Homo sapiens: one gene and its partners. The protein of the gene in region 1 purifies or fractionates together with the protein of each later gene. This does not show direct contact. Each region holds a gene or a part of one and is shown on either strand. Other genes may lie near its edges.

Region 1 (8,097 bases):
CCTTCCCTTGGAGATGGTCCTGCTTTCCTTCTACGGACATCTAGAAGCTTAACATCTCATAGGTCCCAGGAGGAGAGATGTGGGAGGAGGAGGGGAGGCTTCAGGGAAACAAAATTTAACAACAAAGGCCCCAGAAGAAATACCAGATAACGGATAAAAACGTTCAAGAAGGCTGGGTGCAATGGCTCAAGCCTGTACTTTGGGAGGCCAAGGCAGGTGGATCACCTGAGGCCCAGAGTTTGAGACCAGCCTGGCCAATATGGAGAAACCCTATCTCTACTGTTAAAAATATATATACAAAAATTAGCTAGGCATGGTGGCACATGCCTGTAATCCCAGCTACTTGAGAGGCTGAGACATGAGAATTGCTTGAACCCAGGAAGCAGGGGTTGCAGTGAGCTGAGACTGGACCACTGTACTCTAGCCTAGGTAACAGAGCGAGATTCTGTCTAAAAAAGAAAAAAAATTACAGTAAGCTAAGGTTAATTGGCCCAACTCAGTGGCTCATGTCTGTAATCCCAGCACTTTGGGAGGCTGAGGCAAGTGGATCGCTTGAGCTCAAGTGTCCAAGACCAGCCTGGGCAACATGGTGAAACTCCATTTCTATAAATAAATTTAAAAAATAAAAAAAAATAAGCAGGCATTGTGATGTGCGCCTGTAGTCCCAGCTACTCAGGAGGCTGAATTAGGATTGCTTGAGCCCAGGAGGCAGAGGTTGCAGTGAGATCACTGCATTCCATTGCATTCCAGCCTGAGCGACAGAGCCAGACCCTGCCTCAAAAAAAAGAAAAAAGAAAGAGAAGGAAAAAGAAAAAACAAGCTCGTGAAGATAGCATGTCTTCCAATCACAAACTCACATCTTTGCTCGCCTATTTCTCACTGCAGTAGTAAAATGTCCCTTCAGGTGTACTCTGGGTTGAGTGATTTTCTCCCTCGTCAGTTTTTATCTCCATTTCATGGTTCAAGTACGAGGGAGGCGCTTGAATCAAATCTTGCTGTGAATGCACTGAGCTGTGCACGCTCTGTGTAAACATCACAGAGCAAAGCGGACATCCATTCCTCACCACTGCAGACCTGCGCCTTGCAGTGCTCGAGAAACACAGTGAGGAACTGATCTGTTTTCCTGTTGTTTTTAATTAAAGTCGCAGCTCTCTAGAGGAGCACTGTCCACCTAGGGAGGAAAGTAGGAGGCCAGTAGCAAACCCCTCCCAGAGCTGGGGACATGTATTCCCCTGGGGAACCCGGTGGCACCCGCCCTGAGGAGCGCACCACCCCGCCCAGATCCAGGTCCCGTCAGGGTGCCACCTGCTGCATGGGCCTGAGGTTCGGGGACACAGCAAAGGCACACCCCGTGCTCTTTTTGATGTCGTCCACCGTCAGGCCCTCCCAGAGCTCCCTCAGCGTCAGCTCTTTCTTCCTGTGCACGTCAAACACGGCCTTCTCGGTGATGATGCGGTCCACGCACCGCTTCCCGGTCAGCGGCATGGTGCATTTCTCCATGATCTTGGGGGTGTTGTCCTTTGTGCAGTGCTGCATGGTGACCACCACTCTGGTCTTCTGACTGGACACCAAGTCCATGGCACCGCCCATGCCTTTCACCTTCTTGCCAGGGATCATCCAGTTCGCCAGGTCGCCGTATTTGGAAACCTGCATGGCTCCAAGCATGGTTAGTTGGATGTGTCCCCCTCGGATCATGGCGAAGGAGTCGTCGCTGGCGAAGAAGCAGCCCCCGGGAAGCACCGTGACCGTCTGCTTGCCTGCATTGATGAGGTCGGCATCCACCTCATCTTCCGTGGGAAACGGGCCCAGGCCCAGGATCCCGTTCTCACTGTGAAGATGGACAGTCATGCTGGGACTGATGAAGTTGCTGGCCAGCAGGGGGATGCCTATGCCCAGATTGGCGTACATGCCGTCCTCAAATTCCAGAGCTGCGCGTCTGATGATGCGCGTCCTGGCGTCCTCTTCCTTTCCAGCGTCTCCATCTTCCTCTTTCAGGATCGTTAAGCGCTCAATTCGTTTCTCGTATTTCTGCCCCTTTATCACGCGATCTACATAAATGTTAGGAACGTGGATGTCTTCTGGGGGGAAAGCCCCCACCTCCACGATCTCTTCCACCTCCACCGCCGTGACGTCTGCAGCTTTGCACATGGGCACGTTGAAATTGCGGGCGCTTCTCCTGAAGACCACGTTTCCTGCCCGGTCGGCCTTCCACCCTTTCACCAGGGCGAAGTCTGCCCGGATGGCGCGCTCCAAAAGGAAGTGGTCGCCGTTGAACTCCCTCACCTCTCGGGGCTGGCTCATGAGCGCCAGGTGGCCGTCCGGGGTGTAGCGGATGGGGGCGCCCCCTTCCTGGACCAGGGTCCCGTAGCCCGTGGGGGTGTAGAAGGCGGGCACCCCGGCGCCCCCCGCGCGGATGCGCTCGGCCAGGGTGCCCTGGGGCGTGAGCTCCAGCTCCAGCTCTCCTGCCAGGTACTGGCTCTCGCACAGGGTGTTCTCGCCCACGTAGGAACAGACGATGCGACGGACCTGCCTGGCGGCCAGCAGGAGGCCCAGGCCGAAGTCCTCCACGCCCACGTTGCTGCTGACCACCTGCAGGTCTTTCACGCGGGTCCTGAGCAGCGCGGCGATCAGGTTCTCGGGGATCCCGCAGAGCCCGAAGCCCCCGATCATGACGGTCGCCCCGTCAGAGATGTCCTTCACCATCTCCACCGGGTCCGCGTAGAACTTGGCACGGAGCCGGGGACTGGTGGCAAAGCAGCGGGCGCAGCCCTGGGACAGCGCGAGCCCTGAGCCGCCGGCGGGGACCCCGCGCCCGAGCACTGACGCCAGGAGCCGCAGCGCCGCCATAGTCGGCCCGGGTCGGAGGCCAGGACAGGTGGTGTGAGCCCTGCGTGCGCCTCGGGCCGCGCGTCACAGAGCAGGGCGGGCGCCCGCGCCCTGACGCACTCCCTCCCAGCAGGTCTCCCCGGCCAGGCGCAGGCTCTAGGCTAGGCCCGCGACCCGCAACAGGGAGGGGGCCGGCTCCGCCCTGGGCTGGGGGCCCCCGAGTCAGTCCTCCGTGTCCAGCGCACAGGCCCGGGCGCAGGACAGAGCTGAGGTCAGGCTCCGCGAGAAGGGCACAGGCTAGGTCCCCTCCTGCCCCAGTGGAGCCTCAGACACAAACTCCAACCACCCCGCCCAAGCTTCCCCCCAGCTTCCCCAGCTCATTAAAGACACCAAGTGTCCAATGAGCAGGCGCCGCTGGGTGACACCGACGCTCATGAACACCTTCACTGGGCATCACTCTGTGCCAAGCACCCTCCTTTAATCCTGTGACAACCCGGAGAGTGAGTGCCTGCCCCACTACAGCCTCCCAGAGCTCAGGTTCACCCCTCACTGCGACAGTGGGGACAGTATCCCTCACCTCCATCAGGAAGGGTCCCTGCTCTGAAGAGGCCCCCCGTCTTGTCCTCTGCATCCCCCCGCCCTCTCCACCTCCCCCACTCCAGCTCCCTGCTCCAACTTGTGCGGAATTTTGCAGTTTTCTTCCCTCTGCACAGAATCACTGCATCACCACAGCAGCGTGCAGGCGTCTCCTCACCTGGAAAGGACCTGCCTTGTCCCGGGTTCTCTCCAGCCCCAGCCCATGTCTCTGCTCCCCTTCCCCAGCAAAGGTTCTGGAAAGAGCTGTCTCCTGCCTCCACTGCCTGTCTCCCTCCACCTCCTCAGTCAGACCCACACTCCACGGATATTTAGGTCATCAACAACCTCTGTGATGGCAAAACCCTTGGTCACTTCTCTGTTCTTGCCTTCAGTGCCCACAGCAGGACACAAATGACAAACCCTTGCTTCTGGAAACACTTTACTCTGGCGTCTAGATCACCTCATCCTCCAGGTGTCCTGCTCCCTCCCTGGCTGGTCTCTGTGGGCTCTCTGTGGCCCCTCCTTGTGAGGTCTCTGGATGTTGGAGGTCCCAGGGCTCTGGGCCAGGCCCTCTTTCTTCTCCATCACTACCCTCCTTCCCTAGATGACCTGGTCCCATCCCATGCTTTAAATCCACTTACATGCCAGCACCTCCCTCGCCTGGGTCTTCACACTCACCGGTCCCTGTAATGGCATTTCCATGAGGACCAGTGATCTCAGTAACATCCCAGGGGGGTCAGTAATATTCCAGCCAAAAGAGAACCCTTGGCCACCCACCTCAAACCTGCCCTTCATCTATCTTTTCCCCAAAAAGAAAAATCTATTGAAAAAAATCCACTGGCTCCAACCACACATCATTCAGGCTTCCTCCTGTTCCCTCACCTCCTCGCCAGCTATAAGCATGTCCTGACACTGAAATCGACTCATCTTTCTCCATCTCCACTGCTACCAACAAGTCGCTCACAGCGCCCACCTGGACCACTGTGGGGCCCCCACACGTCTCTCTGACTTCACTCTTGTCCATCTCAGTCTGCTCTCTCCACTGAAGTCAGGGGGTTCTTTATTTTATGCATATATTAAGTTTTAATTTTACAACAGTTGATAGTTACATAAAACTTTGTAAAGATAGTACAGAGGCTAAGGTGGGAGGATCGCTCGCGCCCAGGAGTTGGAGGTTACCGTCAGCTGTGATTGCGCCACTGCACTCCAGCCTGAGCAACAGAGCCAAACCCTGTCTCAAAGAAAAAAAAACTACACAAGGAGTTCCCATACACCTGGACCCAGTTTCCTCTGGGAAATGCTAATATTTTACACTAGCAGGGTACCTTTCTCATAACTAATGAACCAATACTGATACCTTATTATTAAGTAAACACCATGATCGATCTGGATTTCATAACTTCTCCCTAATGACCTTTTGCTGGTCCAGGACTCAACCCAGGACCCCACATGCACTGAGCTGGTCTTCTTAGGTGCCTCTGGGCTCCTCCAATTTCCCAACCTTCCCTTTTTTTTGATGAGCTTGGCGGTTTTGAGAAGCGCTTGTCAGGTATTCTGCGGAAAGCCCTTCTCTTTGGGTTTGTTTGACGGTTTTCTCGTGGCTGGACTGGGGTTTTGGGTTCACGGAGGGGGCCCTCTGAGGCTCAGTGGCCTTCTCCTTCCCTTTCACCCAGGGCACATGCTAGCACCGTGCCGGTCACTGCAGTGAGCCTTCCTCACCTGGCTGAGGCGCTGCGCGTCAGGTCCCCCACGCCCTGTCCACACCGCACTTTCGGGAAGCAAGTCACTGGGTGCAGCCCACGGAAGGGGTGGGGAGCTCTGCTCCACCCCGAGAGGGGGGCATCTCAGAGGGTTCTCTTTTAAAACCTGAATCAGATCCTGTCGTCCTCCACTGCTAGTAAATAAAATAAATGACGCTAAGAACCCCAGCACCTGGCCCTGGTTTACTCTGACTCAGAATGGCCCCTGGGTCCCCCGCCCTCACCGCTGCTCCATGGCGCCCCCTTGCCGGGCCTCAAACACACCCATCTCGTGCCCACTTTGGCCTCTGTATTCCTACTGCCTGGCATAAAAGAGGCTCTCCCCAGTGTCACCTGTGGAATGAACAAGGGCGTGAATCCCCATCCTGCGGAAGAGAAGACGGGGTCTGGAAAGGTAAGTCCCAGCCAAGGTCACTGAGGCAGGGCACTGCCAAGCTGGGCTTCAAACCCAGCCTCCTGGCCTCAGTGCCTGAGGGTACAGCCACTTCCCCTCCTTCCCTTCCCAGGACAGAAACTCCCAAGGTGGAGGCTGCTCCGTGGGAAGAGCCGCCTGCTTCCTGGGAAGCAGAGGGAGAGGAGGGAGCACCCCCACTAGGCCAGACCTCGTGCCCTGGACCTCAGTGACCCTTGCAGCGGGCACAGCTGGTGAGGCCGGGCACCCAGGGCCACAGGAAGCCACTACCGCTGCCTGTGCTGGCACAGAGAAGCCCCAGGGGCTGCAGAGCCCCCAGCCTCACCGTCCTCAGTCTCCACATAGAGGCGGAGTCCCAGGTCCTTGTGACGCTTCAGCAACCAGCAGTCACTGGCTGCTGTGACATCCAGCACCAGCCAGCCCTCGTCTCCAGCTCGGAGCGTCTGAAGATCCAAAAAGAACAAGTCAGACTCCCTGTGGACATGAAAGAACAATTAACCGGCGGCCGGCACAGCTGCCTCCGTGTCTCCAGGGCCCGCTGGGGGCTGTCACCGGAGTGTCTCCCACCTGACTCTGGCTGCGCCCCTTCTGAGCCTCATCTCATTGCCTCAGCCCACAGAGGTGTACACATGGGGAAACTGAGTCTCAGTGACCTGTCCAAGTCCCCACAGCCAGGATGGCAGGGCAGGGACTTGAAGTCAGGATTGTCACTGGGGCTCTTCCCACAGTGCAGGGGCCTCGGGCCAAGCATCCTTCCCATCTTTGAGGCTCTCTTTCAGCCCACCACGACTCCCTGCTGGGCTGCCTTGACCATGAGACTGTGAGGTGGGGGGTTAGGTGGGGCACCCGGGCCAAGGGGAAGGCACCTGTTGGACTGCTCCTGGACCACCTGGAACATGCTGACGTGGAGGGTCCTGTTGAGCAGGTGGATGCTGGGCACCTTGTAAATCCGGAACTCCGCAGCTGTGACCGCCTCCCCAGCCGGGATCTGGGTCAGGTCAAAGCGGAACTCCTTCCAATGGGGCTCCTGGTGGCCCAGGGCACGGTCTCGCTCCACTAGAAGACAAAGCAGCGCTGGGCTGGCACTCAGAATGGCTCGGGCTCTGGAGGGGGCAGAGCTGGTGTGAGCCACCGCCCCCAGCCACCCACCACTCAAGGTGGAGCGGACCCAGGGAGGCCTGGGTGGGGCCGGCTTCATTTAGTGCAAACGTTTGTTCCAGGCTTGGTCCCGGGGTGTAGACAGGGCCAAGAGGCCCTGCAGCCAGGCTCACCCTGAGCCCCGCAGCTGGCTGGTGCTCAGCAGGCCCCAGGCTCCAAACCCTGAACTCCCGTTGCGCCCCCTTCTCGGCCCGGCTGGTCCTGGGACTCAGAGATGAGACAGAGGAGGGAGCCTCCTCTGGGAACTTCCAGGCTAAAGGGAAGATGGACATTGGACCCAAGGCAGAAAAGGGCCCCAGCCCTGCAGGGAAACCTGGTAGACAGGAACATAACCGACATAACTGACGGCATCTCAGGGGACACAAGGCATCCAGAGCCTGCCCACTGCCTGGATGGGAGGTGCGGCAGGGGAGGGCTCAGGGCTGACAGCTGAGCTGGGCTGAGGCATGAGTGCGAATCTGCCATGGTGTCAGGGAGACGGGCCCTGCAGGGGCCGGCCAGCCAAGGCAGAGGGCCAGAGCAGAGGGGTCTGAGGGCAGGGCAGGGAAAGCAAGCACCAGGAAACAGCAGAGGGCAGGAGACCCACGTTTCCTTTCTGGAACAAGCTGGAAGAGGAAGGAGGGAAACGTGGAAAGGAACAAGAAAAACCAGGGCAGGAGTGACAACTCCCAGAGAGGCCAGTCAGGTGCTGGGGAAGTCGGAGGGTCTCACTGGGTGATGGGATCTGAGCAGGTGGCATCTGAACTGGCTTTGAAGGGTGGGATGGGTCTTGGTAGGTGGAGAAGGTGGCAGGGAGGGTGCTCTAGGGAGAGGGGACCTCGCATGCACAGGGTGGAGGCGCCCACAGGTCAGCGATGTTGGGGACGGCACATGAGCTCTGCTGCGGCCTGCCTGCTGAGGGTGCGAATCCCGGGCCAGGAGCCTGGGCTGCGCCTCTGGCCAGTGGGAAGCACAGGGGACGGGGGCAGCAGGGAGGCGGCGTGGGTGGAGGGGAATTAGAAGACACAGTGGAGGTGAGGGTAGAGGCCAGGCTGGAAGTGAGATGGGCAGCAGGGCCCCGTGGCAGGGGCTGGCCTGCCAATCAAACAAAGGCTGTAGTTGCGGAATAAAGCCCACATTTCCCCAGGTGTCCGGAAATACCCAGGACGCTATATTTAGGGCAGTCTCACTTTAGCCTCCCATCCGTTTCAAACTCTAGAAATCTGTGTTTCCAGAAAGCAGGGGTGGGAGCCGCCCAGTGCCTTCCCCAAAACCCAGCACTGAGATTTCAATGATATGTTTGTGAGTCTTTTTAAAAATTCTCTGTGGTTACTGGGCTCAGTGACCACGGTCAGGTTTGTAAAAGCACCAGGCTGTGCGGGCCGA
Region 2 (4,841 bases), on another chromosome or scaffold:
CAGCCCTCCTGGTGCTGCCATTGTGGTGGGGGAGACGGACAGTAACAGAGATGGAGAGGGAACTCCTGGAGTATATGAGGGTGGGGGTCCTGTAGGGAGCAGCCAAGCCAGCCGGGTGTGGTGCACTGTAGGGGTGGCTGGGGTCCGTCACTGGAGTGACACTGAAGTATGGACCAGAGGATGTGAGGGGGGAGCTGTGTGGTGTCTTGAGGCAGGTGTGAGCCTGGCGTGTTTGAGGAGCTGGGAGGAGCCCAGAGGGGCAGGTGTGGAGTGAGCAGGTGTGGAGTGAGCGGGTGTAGGGTGAGCAGGTGTGGGGTGGTTGGAGGTAAAGTCCAGGAGGTGGTGGGTGGGGGTGCAGATGGTGCAGGTTGGGTGGGGCCTCAAGGCCTTTGCCTGTTGCAGGGATGTCGACTTTTACTCAAAGTGGGACAGGAGCCGTGGGTGGGGAGGAGTCTGCTCTTCCTTGGCCTGGCTCACCTCTTCATGGAATCCGCGGGCTGCCCTGTGGATAAGGGATTGGGCAGTGTGTGAAGGGCTAGTAAGGAGGCTGCTCAGTAACTTGGGCTTGACCAGGGTGGTGCAGAGGAGGAGGTAAGAGGGGTTAGGTTCTGAAGGTGGAGTAGATGTGGAGAATGGCGGGAAGTTTGGCTTGGAGATGATACTGGACTCTTCAGCCTGAGCAGTTGGAAGGGTGGAGTTGCTTTCAGCTGAGCAAGAGGAGACCTGGGTGGGCAGATGCTGGGGGGCATCAGGAGCTGAGGTGTTTCCTTTCCCCTTGAAGCCTGGTGACTGCTGGCCTGAGCCACGCTTGAGCCGTGGGTCATGTGAGTGTGAATGAGTGTGAGTGCATGTGAGTCTCCGCCCCTGCTCACCACCCTCTCATCCCCTGCAGCGGTGGGGGCGGCGTACGCAGCCAAGCGGGCCAATGCCAACAGGGTCGTCATCTGTTACTTCGGCGAGGGGGCAGCCAGTGAGGGGGACGCCCATGCCGGCTTCAACTTCGCTGCCACACTTGAGTGCCCCATCATCTTCTTCTGCCGGAACAATGGCTACGCCATCTCCACGCCCACCTCTGAGCAGTATCGCGGCGATGGCATTGGTATGGGCTCTGCTGGCTGCTCCCCACCCCGCTGGGATCATCTCCTTCCCTCCCCAATCCTGCCACCTTCCTGCCACCCCTACCCTCCTTCCTGGTTCTCGTCCTGTGTCCTGTGGCGTCTGGCACTTGGTCAGCCACAGGAGTTGAGGTCCTGAGCACTCAGCCTTGCTCTCTGTCCTCTCCCTGCTCGTCCCCTTGGCCTCGTGCATGTTCCTTATCTCAGCCCTGGCCTGACCTGCCTTCTCTGTGTCCCCACAGCAGCACGAGGCCCCGGGTATGGCATCATGTCAATCCGCGTGGATGGTAATGATGTGTTTGCCGTATACAACGCCACAAAGGAGGCCCGACGGCGGGCTGTGGCAGAGAACCAGCCCTTCCTCATCGAGGCCATGACCTACAGGTGCCTGCCGCTCCCCCCGTCAGCACCCCCACAGCACTGACAGCCACCGTAGCATCTTCCTCATATCGATCACTGTCTCCAAAACATGGCCTTATCACCTGATGTTGCATCTCCCCCTTGCCTTTATTCCGTTTCCACTCCTCCTTCCCTAGTTCATCCCCCATCCTCCCTCCTGACCCCCACTCCAGGGAGCCCACACTGACCTGGGGCCCCTTGCCCCTGTGCAGGATCGGGCACCACAGCACCAGTGACGACAGTTCAGCGTACCGCTCGGTGGATGAGGTCAATTACTGGGATAAACAGGACCACCCCATCTCCCGGCTGCGGCACTATCTGCTGAGCCAAGGCTGGTGGGATGAGGAGCAGGAGAAGGCCTGGAGGAAGCAGTCCCGCAGGAAGGTGAGGGTGCCCCGCCCGGGAGGGTGTGCTGGGGGCTGCTGCGGCCTGCAGAGCTTGGGAAGGATTTGTGGAACACCGAACTGGGAGGCTCAGGGATAACCCCAGTGATGTCTCAGATGTGGCCTGTGGAGCCAGGCTGCTGGGGCCATGTGTGTCCTGGCTCTGTGTCCTTGGCATGTTGCCCTCCACTTCCTTGTCTTTGAAAGGGGATGCTGGTGGTGCCCATTTCAGAAACTGGTTTGAGACTGGGCATGGTGGCTCACACCTGTAATCCCAGCACTTTGGGAGGCCGAGGTGGCAGATCACTTGAGGTCAGGAGCTTGAGAACAGCCTGGCCAAACATGGTCAAGCCCTGTCTCTACTAAAAATACAAAAATTAGGGCTGGGCGCAGTGGCTCACGCCTGTAATCCCAGCACTTTGGGAGGCCAAGGCGGACAGATCACCTGAGGTCGGGAGTTTGAGACCAGCCTGGCCAACATGGTGAAACCTCGTCTCTAATAAAAATACAAAAATTAGCCGGGCATGGTGCCGGGTGCCTGTAATCCCAGCTACTTGGGAGGCCGAGGCAGGAGAATTGCTTGAACCTGGGAGGTAGAGGTTGCAGTGAGCTGAGATCGTACCATTGCACTCCAGCCTGGGCAACGAGAGCAAGACTCCATCTCAAAAAAAAAAATTAGCCAGGCGTGGTGGTGCGTGCCTGTAGTCCCAGCTACTCAGGAAGGTGAGGCAGAAGAATCGCTTGAACCCGGGAGGTGGAACTTGCAGTGATTGGAGATGGCGCCACTGCACTCCAGCCTGGGCAACAGAGCAAGACTATCTCTTAAAAAAAAAAAAAAGCTGGTTTGAGGATTAGGTGGCAAACCGTGGTGGAGTGTACATGCCCTGCCCAGAGTCAGTGTGCCACCCTCCCTGGCCCGGTCATTAGGACCCAGGGCCCGTGCAGCCCAGTGGTGAGGGCAGCACCCGGCATAGGGCAGCACCGTGTGTCCTGTCCCTGCCCTTCTCTGTGCCTCAGTTTCCTCATTGCTTAGCTGTCTACCTCTTAGGGCTGCTGAAAGCCTTAAATGATTCCACACACTTGGATAGCACCTGATCCCTGCTGGGATTTGAGGGTTTTCATTACACTTCTGCTAGGATAATCATTTCCATTGTCGAGGTGGGAACACAAAGGCTTGGAGTGGTTAATTCCTTGCCAAGGCCCCGCAGGAGGAAGCAGGGTCCTGCATGGGAGGCCGGCTAGCCTGCCCACTGCCCCATGTCCCCACAGGTGATGGAGGCCTTTGAGCAGGCCGAGCGGAAGCCCAAACCCAACCCCAACCTACTCTTCTCAGACGTGTATCAGGAGATGCCCGCCCAGCTCCGCAAGCAGCAGGAGTCTCTGGCCCGCCACCTGCAGACCTACGGGGAGCACTACCCACTGGATCACTTCGATAAGTGAGACCTGCTCAGCCCACCCCCACCCATCCTCAGCTACCCCGAGAGGTAGCCCCACTCTAAGGGGAGCAGGGGGACCTGACAGCACACCACTGTCTTCCCCAGTCAGCTCCCTCTAAAATACTCAGCGGCCAGGGCGGCTGCCACTCTTCACCCCTGCTCCTCCCGGCTGTTACATTGTCAGGGGACAGCATCTGCAGCAGTTGCTGAGGCTCCGTCAGCCCCCTCTTCACCTGTTGTTACAGTGCCTTCTCCCAGGGGCTGGGTGAGGGCACATTCAGGACTAGAAGCCCCTCTGGGCATGGGGTGGACATGGCAGGTCAGCCTGTGGAACTTGCGCAGGTGCGAGTGGCCAGCAGAGGTCACGAATAAACTGCATCTCTGCGCCTGGCTCTCTACCACCTCTGGTCTTTGTTTCCTGGAGTTTGGGGGTGATTTGAGGCCACCCCCAGCTTCTCCACCTTAGATAAATAAGGTCAAGGCTCTTGAGATACCTACTTCCCCCGGAAGCTTGCGCAAGCTGGAAGGTTAACTTCAGCAGACAGGATGGGGGTGGGGGGGTCCTCCAGAGATGGTCTCCTGCTCTCTCACAGAATGGGAGAAGCCTGCTGTCCAGCAGAGTGATGGGGAGCCCAGTGGAGCTAGCCCTGCCCAGCAGGGGTGCAGGGGAGCGTCCAGGATGAAGGTCAGGGTGTGGCCAAGCCCTGCTCCCCACCACTCCAGGGCCCCACAGATGCAAAAACAACCCCAGGCCTCAGAGTGGGGAGTGCATGTTTTTCAAAAACAAAAAGTAGGCAAAAACAGTCCACCACCCCATCTTTCCTGCCCAGGCCCCTGGCTGGGGGAGGCCAAGGAGTGGCTTAAGTTGTCCAGCTTCTGGGCCCTCCTCCCTCCCATCAAGACCTGGAAGGAGGGGCTGAGCCAGGGGCCGGCCCCAGAGGCCCAGGCCAGGTCAGCACCTCCGCCCTCCCCAATGAGAGTCAGCACTGGAGCCTTGGGTCTTGCAGTTGTTTCCAGAGCCGAATGCTGGCCTGGGGGCCCAGGGGCCGTACCAGCAGCAGGTTGCGGAAAGCACAGTGGTCCGCAGTGCGGTCTGCTGGCCAGGCTGTGAGGAAGCCTGGGTGGGCCTGGGGCACCAGGCCCAGGGCTCGGATGCAAAGGCCAGTGTAGACGTCCTCAAAGGGGAAGGGTGCCACACGGGCTGCCGCCCGCAGCAGCCAGGGTGCCAGGCGCCCGGCAATGACGTAGCCACCCCCGCTTGCATAGGCTGGGTAGCCACCTTCGAAGAAGGACTCGGGCACATAGAAGGGTCCTCCTGGCTTCCGGAGAGGCATGGCCTGGGTAAAGACCTCACCCAGGTAGAGGCTTCGGGCCGAGGCAGGTGGCAGGGCCCGCAGGTGAGCCAGCAGGGCAGGGGTGTGTACAAAGGCATCGTCCTGAGCTCGCAAGACAAAACTCACGGTGGGGCAGTGGCGGCCCAGCCAGGCCAGCAGCAGCAGGTCTTTGAG
Region 3 (8,156 bases), on another chromosome or scaffold:
TTTTTAAAAACACATAGTAATCTTCCAGATATCACCTTTTGTTGGAACTCATGAGTTATGAGTGGCCCTCAACATACCGATGCTTTCTAACTAAGCTCCTCTCTCTATACTGAACACAAGAGATCCTAATAGTTAGGCAGGAATATCATCACCCCATTCAGCCTGAAGAAGTTACAGAAGATGGATCTTTGTCCCTCTGCAACCCTTAGGATTAAGCGTGCTCTTACAAAAGGGAAAAGGGAAATGTCAGAGGCATTTGAACCAGAGCAACTCCCATCTTGAATAGGAGCTGGGTAAAATAAGGCTAAGACCTGCTGGGCTGCATTCCCAGTAGCAAGTTAAGGCATTTTTAATCACAAGAAGAGATAGAAGGTCAGCAAAAGATACAGGTCATACGGACCTTGCAGATAAAACAGGTTGCAGTAAAGACGTTGGCTAAATCCCACTAAAACCAAGATGGTAACAACAGTGACCTCTGGTCGTCTTCACTGCTACACTCCCACCAGCACCATGACAGTTTGCAAATGCCATGGCAACGTCAGGAAGTTACCCTATATGGTCTAAAAAGGGGAGGCAAGAATACTCCACCCCTTGTTTAGCATATCATCAAGAAATAACCATAAAAATGGCAACCAGCAGCCCTTGGGGCTGCTCTGTCTATGGAGTAGCCATTCTTTATTCCTTTACTTTCTTAATAAACTTGCTTTCAATTAAAAAGAAGTTATTACTAGAAATACAGAATAGAAATAGAGTCACACAATGTGCCACACAATGACATTCCATCAATGCCAGACTGCATATAGGATGGTGATTTCATAAGATTATGATAGAGCTGAAAAATTCCTATCATTTAGTGACATAATAGCACAATACATTACCTTTCCTATGTTTTGAGATGTTTAGATACACAAATACTTACCATTGTGTTACAAATGCCTACAGTATTCAATACAGTAACGTTTGTACAGGTTTGTAGCTCAGGAGCAATAGGCTATACCATAGCTTAGGTGTGTAGTTGACTATACTATCTCAGTTTGTGTAAGGACACTCTATGATGTGTGCACAACAATGAAATTGCCTAACAATGCATTTCTCAGAATGTATCTCTGTCATTAAGCAACACATGACTGTATATAAGAATATTAATAATAATTAGGAGAATACAATTATGGGTTGTTTTCCATCTTCTGCATTTTCCAAAAATTTGTAATGTATTCATATTACTTCTATAGTTCAAAAAATATTACTGATGCCTATTACAAGGAAAGTAGTATGCCAGGCAATATATACAAAAAATAAAAATGTATATACTACCAGGTCTTTGATTCCCAGGGGCTTTCCAGCTATTGGGGGAATAAATTATAATGTGACGCAATGTATGGCTAACATTTCATAAGTAAAGAACTTACATATTCAAAAAATGCTGCAGGCATGGAGTTACATAATAACTCAAATAAGCTATTGATGTCTCTGAAATAAGTTACTGAAATAAGCTATTGATGTCTCCACAATTCTAACTTAAGAGCATGCTGATTTGGATGGCTAGCCTATTCTTTCTTGAAAGGAAGCCTTCAATGTACCTTAGAAATGCCCCCCCCTTTTTTTTTGCCTTAATTGAATTTCATTTACTATGCCATGCTCAGGACAGTTGTTTTATAGGGCCTGAAACAAAAAACAATTTGGGGGTCTTCTCTAAGGAGAAGAATACAAAACTGCAAATACAAAATTAGGTCAGGGTCTTGGAAGAGATTAATGTCAAAGAAGGGCCTGAAGTTTCAAGTCTGTTACCTTCAAGGTAAATCTCTTTCCAGTCATGGTTCCCAAATAAATTATTCTTTTCACTTGACTTACAGGTCACACACATATATATATAAAATTTAACAATTGTCATAAAAATCTATGAAATGAGAAACTTTATAATCAGCATCTTAAACAACAAACATGAAAATAAAATTCCAGAAAAAAAAATAGGGATTCACACTGCATTTGCTATAGTGGTACCCAGAGAAGTAGCTTAGTGCAGTGGCTTAGATATGAACTCTGGAGTCAAAGTGCCTGGGTTCAAATCTCAGCTTTACTACTTAACAGCTGAGTGACCTCAGAAAAGTAACACAACACAACCATTCTGTTGCTTAGTGTCCTCACCTGTAAAATGAAAACAGTACTTACCTAATGAGGTTGTTGTAAGAATTATATTAGAATTAGAAGGACAGCAAGATTATTTAGCATGTGTAAAATATTTAAAATCTGGCACATGGTAAGTGCAATGTAAGTGTTAGCTCCTATTAACAGCATATCACTTGTAATTCAATTTAGAAAATTACTTCCATTTCCTGAGCATCTCAACTGACAGAGTTCTATAAATATAGCTGAATTTATTACAATAATTTGCTAATATTGAAAAAAAACCCTAAATTTCATCAACAAGAAACATACTGAATGAATTAATGGTATATCAAGATCATAGAACCGCTAGGTCACCAACAAAAAGAATGAGGCTGATCTACAATTACTGACATGGAAAGATGTCTGTGATATAATATTAGTGTATAAGATTCTATTCACTGGCCGGGCACAGTGGCTCACGCCTGTAATCCCAGCACTTTGGGAGGCTGAGGCAGGTGGATCACGAGGTCAGGAGTTTGAGACCTGCCTGACCAACATGGGAAAACCCCATCTCTACTAAAAACACAAAAATTAGCCAGGCATGGTGGGGCATACCTGTAATTCCAGCTACTTAGGAGGCTGAGGCAGGACAATCGCTTGAACTCGGGAGGCAGAGGTTGCAATGAGCCGAGATCGTGCCACTGCACTCCAGCCTGGGCAACTGAATGAGAGACTCCGTCCAAAAAAAAAAAAAAATTCTATTCACTGTTCTTAGGTATGTATTTTGTTTGCTGTATGTATATGTATATAGGTTTCTATTCACATAGAAAATGGCTGGAAGAATGCATACCATCCTACAATCAGTGGTTACATCACAGGACAGAACTGGGAAACTTGTAATAATATACTTATATACTACTACAGTTTTATATTTTATAGAATGTGCATGCATTATTTTTATAATTTAATTTTTAAACTCTGAGTCAGAAAAATAAGGCCAACCCACCTCGGTGTGTCTACAAACTTCTCGATCAGCATAGCATCATCATTGAAAGACTTCTTAGCTTCTCTCCGTGCTGACTCTAACTGTTCTTGAAATTCTTGTTCTGATCTAACAATCCTCATTCCCTAAGAGAGAAAAGATGATTATGACTACAACATAAATAAAACAAAGAAGACAAGCCTGAATTGGCAAACACAAGCATGCACAATCTTACTTTTCCTCCTCCACCCCGGACGGCTTTAATCATGACAGGATAGCCAATTCTCCTGGCGTGTTCCTTCAGGCACTGGTCTGATTGGTCCTCACCATGATAACCCTCCACAACAGGTACTCCAGCAGCAGCCATTATGGATTTGGATGTGCTTTAGAGTGGGAAAGAAAACAACATGCCCCAAATTCTACAAATTATTTCATTCAAGACAAACATAAATATAGCCCAGTCTATAAATTACAATGGAACTCTTTAAAGAAAACATCGAGTCTGAGACGACAAAATAATACAAATTTAATATGTCTATTAGTTAGTTTCCCTCATTTCATGTGGTAGCTCATCTCACCCTATTTTTTAATCCCAAAATACTAATATATTGATTAGAAACATTAAGTATTTTCTGTAACTCAATAGAATTTCTCTATGTCACAGATAAATAACTTATGCCTATGACAACAGAAGGGTAGAATTAAAATATTATAGGTAAAACAAACTATTTCTTTTTTTTTTTTAGAGACAGGGTCTCACAATGTTGCCCATGCCAGAGTGCAGTGGTGCAATTATACTTCACTACAGCCTTAAACTTCTGAGCTCAAGTGATCCTTCTGCCTCAGCCTCCTAAGCAGCTGGGACTACAGGTGTGTGTCACCATACCCAGCTGAATTTTTTTTTTTTTTTTTGAGATGGGGTCTTACTCTGTCACCCAGACTGAAGTATGATGGTGTGATCACAGCTCACTGCAGCCTTGATCTCCTGGGCTCAAGCAATCCTCCCACCTCAGCCTCCCAAGATGCTGGACCCACAGGCACGTGCCACCATGCCTGGAATTTTTAAAAAATTTTGTAGAGACAGGGTCTCCCTGTGTTGCCCAGGCTGGTCTTAAACTTCTGGGCTCAAGTGATCCTCCCACCTTGGCCTCCCAAAGTGCTGGGATTACAGGTGTGAGCCACTGTGCCCAGGCCTGGCTGATTTAAAAAAAAGAATTTTGAGAGACAAGGTCTCACTAAGTTGCCCAGGCTGGTCTTGAATTCCTGGCCTCAAGCTATCCTCCTGCCTCAGTCTCCCAAAACACTGGTATTACAGGCATAGCCACATGCCTGGCCCAAACTATTTCAACTGACCTTCATACAGTTATATTTTAAAAGATATAAACTCATACCTCTTTATACCCATGTCTCTAATTGCAGATGGAGGAGGGCCTATAAAAATAATTCCTTCTTGCTTACAAAGTTCAGCAAATTCCATGTTTTCTGAGAGAAAACCGCATCCTGGATGGATAGCCTAGAAATGAGAAATAAAATAAAAAATTTACTCATCAGTGCTCAACTGGCAACACCTTAATGCAGGTGAAGCTGTCTTCCTCTGGGAGGCCTCTCCCTACACTGGTAATAGTATGGTCTCTATTAAACTCTGTTTCCAAAGAAATATCTGAAATATTCATATGAAAGCTCTGAAGGCTTACCTAAACCAGATGAATCTATATTTCTTTTTATTGTGATAATATATACATAGCAAAACACTGACCATTTTAGTTACTTGCAAGTATGTAATTCAGTGGCATTAAGTACACTCACAATGTTGGGCAACTGTCATCACCATCCATCCTCAGGATGTTTTAATCTCCAAACATAATTCTCCATTCCCTCCCTTTCCTTAGTCCCTAGTAACCAGGATTTTACTTTCTGTTTATGAATTTCTCTAGCCAAAGTACCTCATGTAAGTGGAAGCGTATAATAATTTGTCTGAGTTTGGCTTATTTCACCTAGCATAATGTTTTCAAGGTTCATTCATGTAACATGTATCAAAATTCCATTTGTTTTTAAGGTTGAATAATATCCAGTTTGTACACATTTTGTTTATCCATTAATCTCTTGATGGACATTGTGTTATTTCTACACATTGTGAATACTGCTGCTGTGAACAACAAGTATTGGTATACAAGTATCTGTTTTGAGTCCCTGCTTTAAATTCTTCTAGCTGTATACCAAAAGTGGAATTGCTGGATCATATGGTACAGAAGTTTCTATATACTTAAATTTAAAATAATATTGCAATTAGGGTAGAATGTCAAGAAGTAAAGGGCTTCAGAGTGGTAAGGGGAATTTGTCTATTCTGTCTCTGTGTAAAACTGGCCTAGAATTGAAATCATGGCATCCAAAAGCCCCAAACAGAACACTAGCTCAATAAATACCTCACTTATCTTCAGGTCATCAATGTCATCTTTCCAGAAAAAAAGCTAAGAAGCAAATGAAAGTCATGTATTAAAGTCTACAGGAGTGTCCCCTTATCCAAGATCCCTAGTGGATGCCTGAAACTATGAATACTACAGAACTGGACTGATACCAATTTGACCACGCTTCTGTTCATGTCTTCCAATCACAAATGTAATGCCTTTCCCATCTTAACTAAGTACTTGCCATGCCCTGTGGCCATAAGTTTTGCAGTTTGAGGTGCAACAGGAAAATGACATGAATTTGTTTTTCCTTCTTCACAATTTCACAGATAGAAACTTGGTCCTTACCAAGAACCAAGAAACCTCAACATACATATTTTTTTCTTTCCTTGAGAATTTTCACCTTTTCACTTAAAAGAAGCATTTCATGGCTTCTCTTTAGCATAAGTGAATTGCCACCATCATTGCTCTTGCATTTTGGGGCCATGATTTAAATAAAATAAGGGTGACTTGAACACAAGCATGGTGGTACCATGACAGTCAATTTGATAACCTAGATGGCTCCTGAGTGACTAACAGATGGGGAGTGGAGACAGCGTGGAGACACTGGACAAAGGGACGATTCACATCCTGGGAGGGACAAAGCAGACTGTGCAAGATCTCACTGTGTGACTCAGAATGGCGTGCAATTTGAAACTTATCAATTGTTGATTTCTGGAATTTTCCATTTAATATTTTCACACCATAGTAGACTGCAGGTAACTGAAACCACTCAAAGCAAAACCGTGGATAAAGGGGACAACTGTACGTGTACTTTCAGTGAAAAGGGCATCCCTCAGACTTCAGCCTAGTTACTTCCAGTGTACTCAGAATTTTAACAAACATACTTACTGGGATTTTAGCCCACAGAAGAGGAAATTCAGTAACTGAAGGACAGCAAGATTTCTAAAAGTAAACACGCTGACAGCAAAAAGGGAAGAAACAGAAGGAGGCAAAAGGCAGAGAAGACTTGGATGATTTAATGAGTGATGAAGCCACACCCTCTCCAACATCAGTAGCCCTGAGGGGATTTGTTCTTCTAAAATGTGAGCGAGTATTATAATTATGACCAAAACAATGTAAAAACACAAAGGTTCAGCCAATCCTGTTTCAAAATAGTTACACTCAAAGAACATTTCAAAATTAAAGGGGTAAGCTTCACATATCTGGGAAACTCATACGAATAGAAAAACCCACATCCTAGTGACAGGAAACAATGCAATGCCAGATACAGATAAAATGCTGGATACTCATATGTTGCAGCCAGTTTAGAGTTTTATATCTTTTAAACCAAAGTTCAATTTTATTTTATTAACTTTTATTTTAGGTTTGGGGTGCATGTGAAGATTACACAGGTGAATACATGTCACAGGGGTTTGTTGTACAGAGTTCGTCACCCAGGTATTAAGCCCAGTATTCAATAGTTATCTTTTCTGCTCCTCTCCCTCCCACCTTCCCCACTCAGGTAGACCCCAGTGTCTTTTGTTTCCTTCTTTGTGTTCTTAAGTTCTTATCATTCAGCTCCCACTTCTAAGTGAGAACATGCAGTATTTGGTTTTCTGTTCCTGTGGGAGTTTGCTAAGGATAATAGCTTCCAGCTCCATCCATGTTCCCGCAAAAGATGTGATCTTATGCTTTATTATGGCTGCATAGTATTCCGTGGTGTATATGTACCACCTTTTCTTCATCCAATCTGTCACTGATGGGCATTTAGGCTGATTCAATGACTTTGCTATTGTGAATGATGCAATGAACATACATGCACATGTGTCTTTATGGTAGAATAATTTATATTCCTCTGGGTATCAACCAGTAATGGGATTGCTGGGTTGAATGGCAGTTTTGCTTTTAGCTCTTTGAGGAATCACCCTGCTGCTTTCCACAATGGTTGAACTAATTTACACTCCTACCAACAGTGTATAAGCGTTCCCTTTTCTCCACAACCTCCTGACATCTGTTATTTTTTTGACTTCTTAGTAATAGCCATTCTGACTGGTGTGAGATGGTGTCTCATTGTGGTTTTGATTTGCGTTTCTCTAATGATCAGTGATATTGAGCTTTTTTTCATGTTTGTTGGTCACATGTATGTCTTCTTTTGAGAAGTGCCTGTTCATGTCCTTTGCCCACTTTTTTTTTTTTTGAGACAGAGTCTTGCTCTGTCACCCAGGCTAGAGTGCAGTGGCATGATCTCATCTCATTGCAACCTCTGCTTCCCAGGTTCACGCCATTCTCCTGCCTCAGCCTCCCAAGTAGCTGGGACTACAGGTGCCTGCCACCACGCCCTGCTAATCTTTTTGTATTTTTAGTAGAGACAGGGTTTCACCATGTTAGCCAGGATGGTCTCATCTCCTGACCGTGTGATCTGCCCGCCTCGGCCTCCCAAAGTGTTGGAATTACAGACGTGAGCCACTGTGCCCGGCTGTCCTTTGCCCACTTTTTAATGGGGTTGTTTTTCTCTTGCACATCTGTTTAAGTTCCTTATAGATGCTAGATATTAGACTTTTGTCAGATGCAAACTTTGCAAATATTTTCTCCCACAATTTGAGTATTTTATATAAAATGGTCAAACATCTATACTAGGCAAATGAAACAGGTCTATGTCCTAGTCCTCCCTGGTTTGGGTT

What was found. The genes of interacting proteins can lie anywhere in the genome.
Region 2: the proteins of OXCT2 (region 1) and BCKDHA purify together in Homo sapiens (affinity purification with mass spectrometry; 2 studies listed by BioGRID and IntAct, with this or other methods). This does not show direct contact.
Region 3: the proteins of OXCT2 (region 1) and MCCC1 purify together in Homo sapiens (affinity purification with mass spectrometry; 3 studies listed by BioGRID and IntAct, with this or other methods). This does not show direct contact.

Annotation. Positions count from the first base shown.
Region 1 is NC_000001.11:39,768,409-39,776,505, forward strand, and holds OXCT2 (succinyl-CoA:3-ketoacid coenzyme A transferase 2, mitochondrial precursor), read right to left. Parts: upstream 2,941-8,097; 5' UTR 2,848-2,940; coding exon 1,294-2,847; 3' UTR 1,115-1,293; downstream 1-1,114. Other genes in the region: BMP8B (bone morphogenetic protein 8B), read right to left, coding at 5,900-6,048, 6,441-6,630. UniProt on the Homo sapiens protein: Key enzyme for ketone body catabolism. Transfers the CoA moiety from succinate to acetoacetate. Formation of the enzyme-CoA intermediate proceeds via an unstable anhydride species formed between the carboxylate groups of the enzyme and substrate.
Region 2 is NC_000019.10:41,421,272-41,426,112, forward strand, and holds the end of BCKDHA (2-oxoisovalerate dehydrogenase subunit alpha, mitochondrial isoform 1 precursor), read left to right. Parts: intron 1-892; coding exon 893-1,099; intron 1,100-1,357; coding exon 1,358-1,499; intron 1,500-1,726; coding exon 1,727-1,898; intron 1,899-3,166; coding exon 3,167-3,337; 3' UTR 3,338-3,731; downstream 3,732-4,841. Other genes in the region: B3GNT8 (UDP-GlcNAc:betaGal beta-1,3-N-acetylglucosaminyltransferase 8), read right to left, coding at 4,314-4,841. UniProt on the Homo sapiens protein: Together with BCKDHB forms the heterotetrameric E1 subunit of the mitochondrial branched-chain alpha-ketoacid dehydrogenase (BCKD) complex.
Region 3 is NC_000003.12:183,067,887-183,076,042, forward strand, and holds part of MCCC1 (methylcrotonoyl-CoA carboxylase subunit alpha, mitochondrial isoform 1 precursor), read right to left. Parts: intron 4,602-8,156; coding exon 4,480-4,601; intron 3,472-4,479; coding exon 3,324-3,471; intron 3,235-3,323; coding exon 3,113-3,234; intron 1-3,112.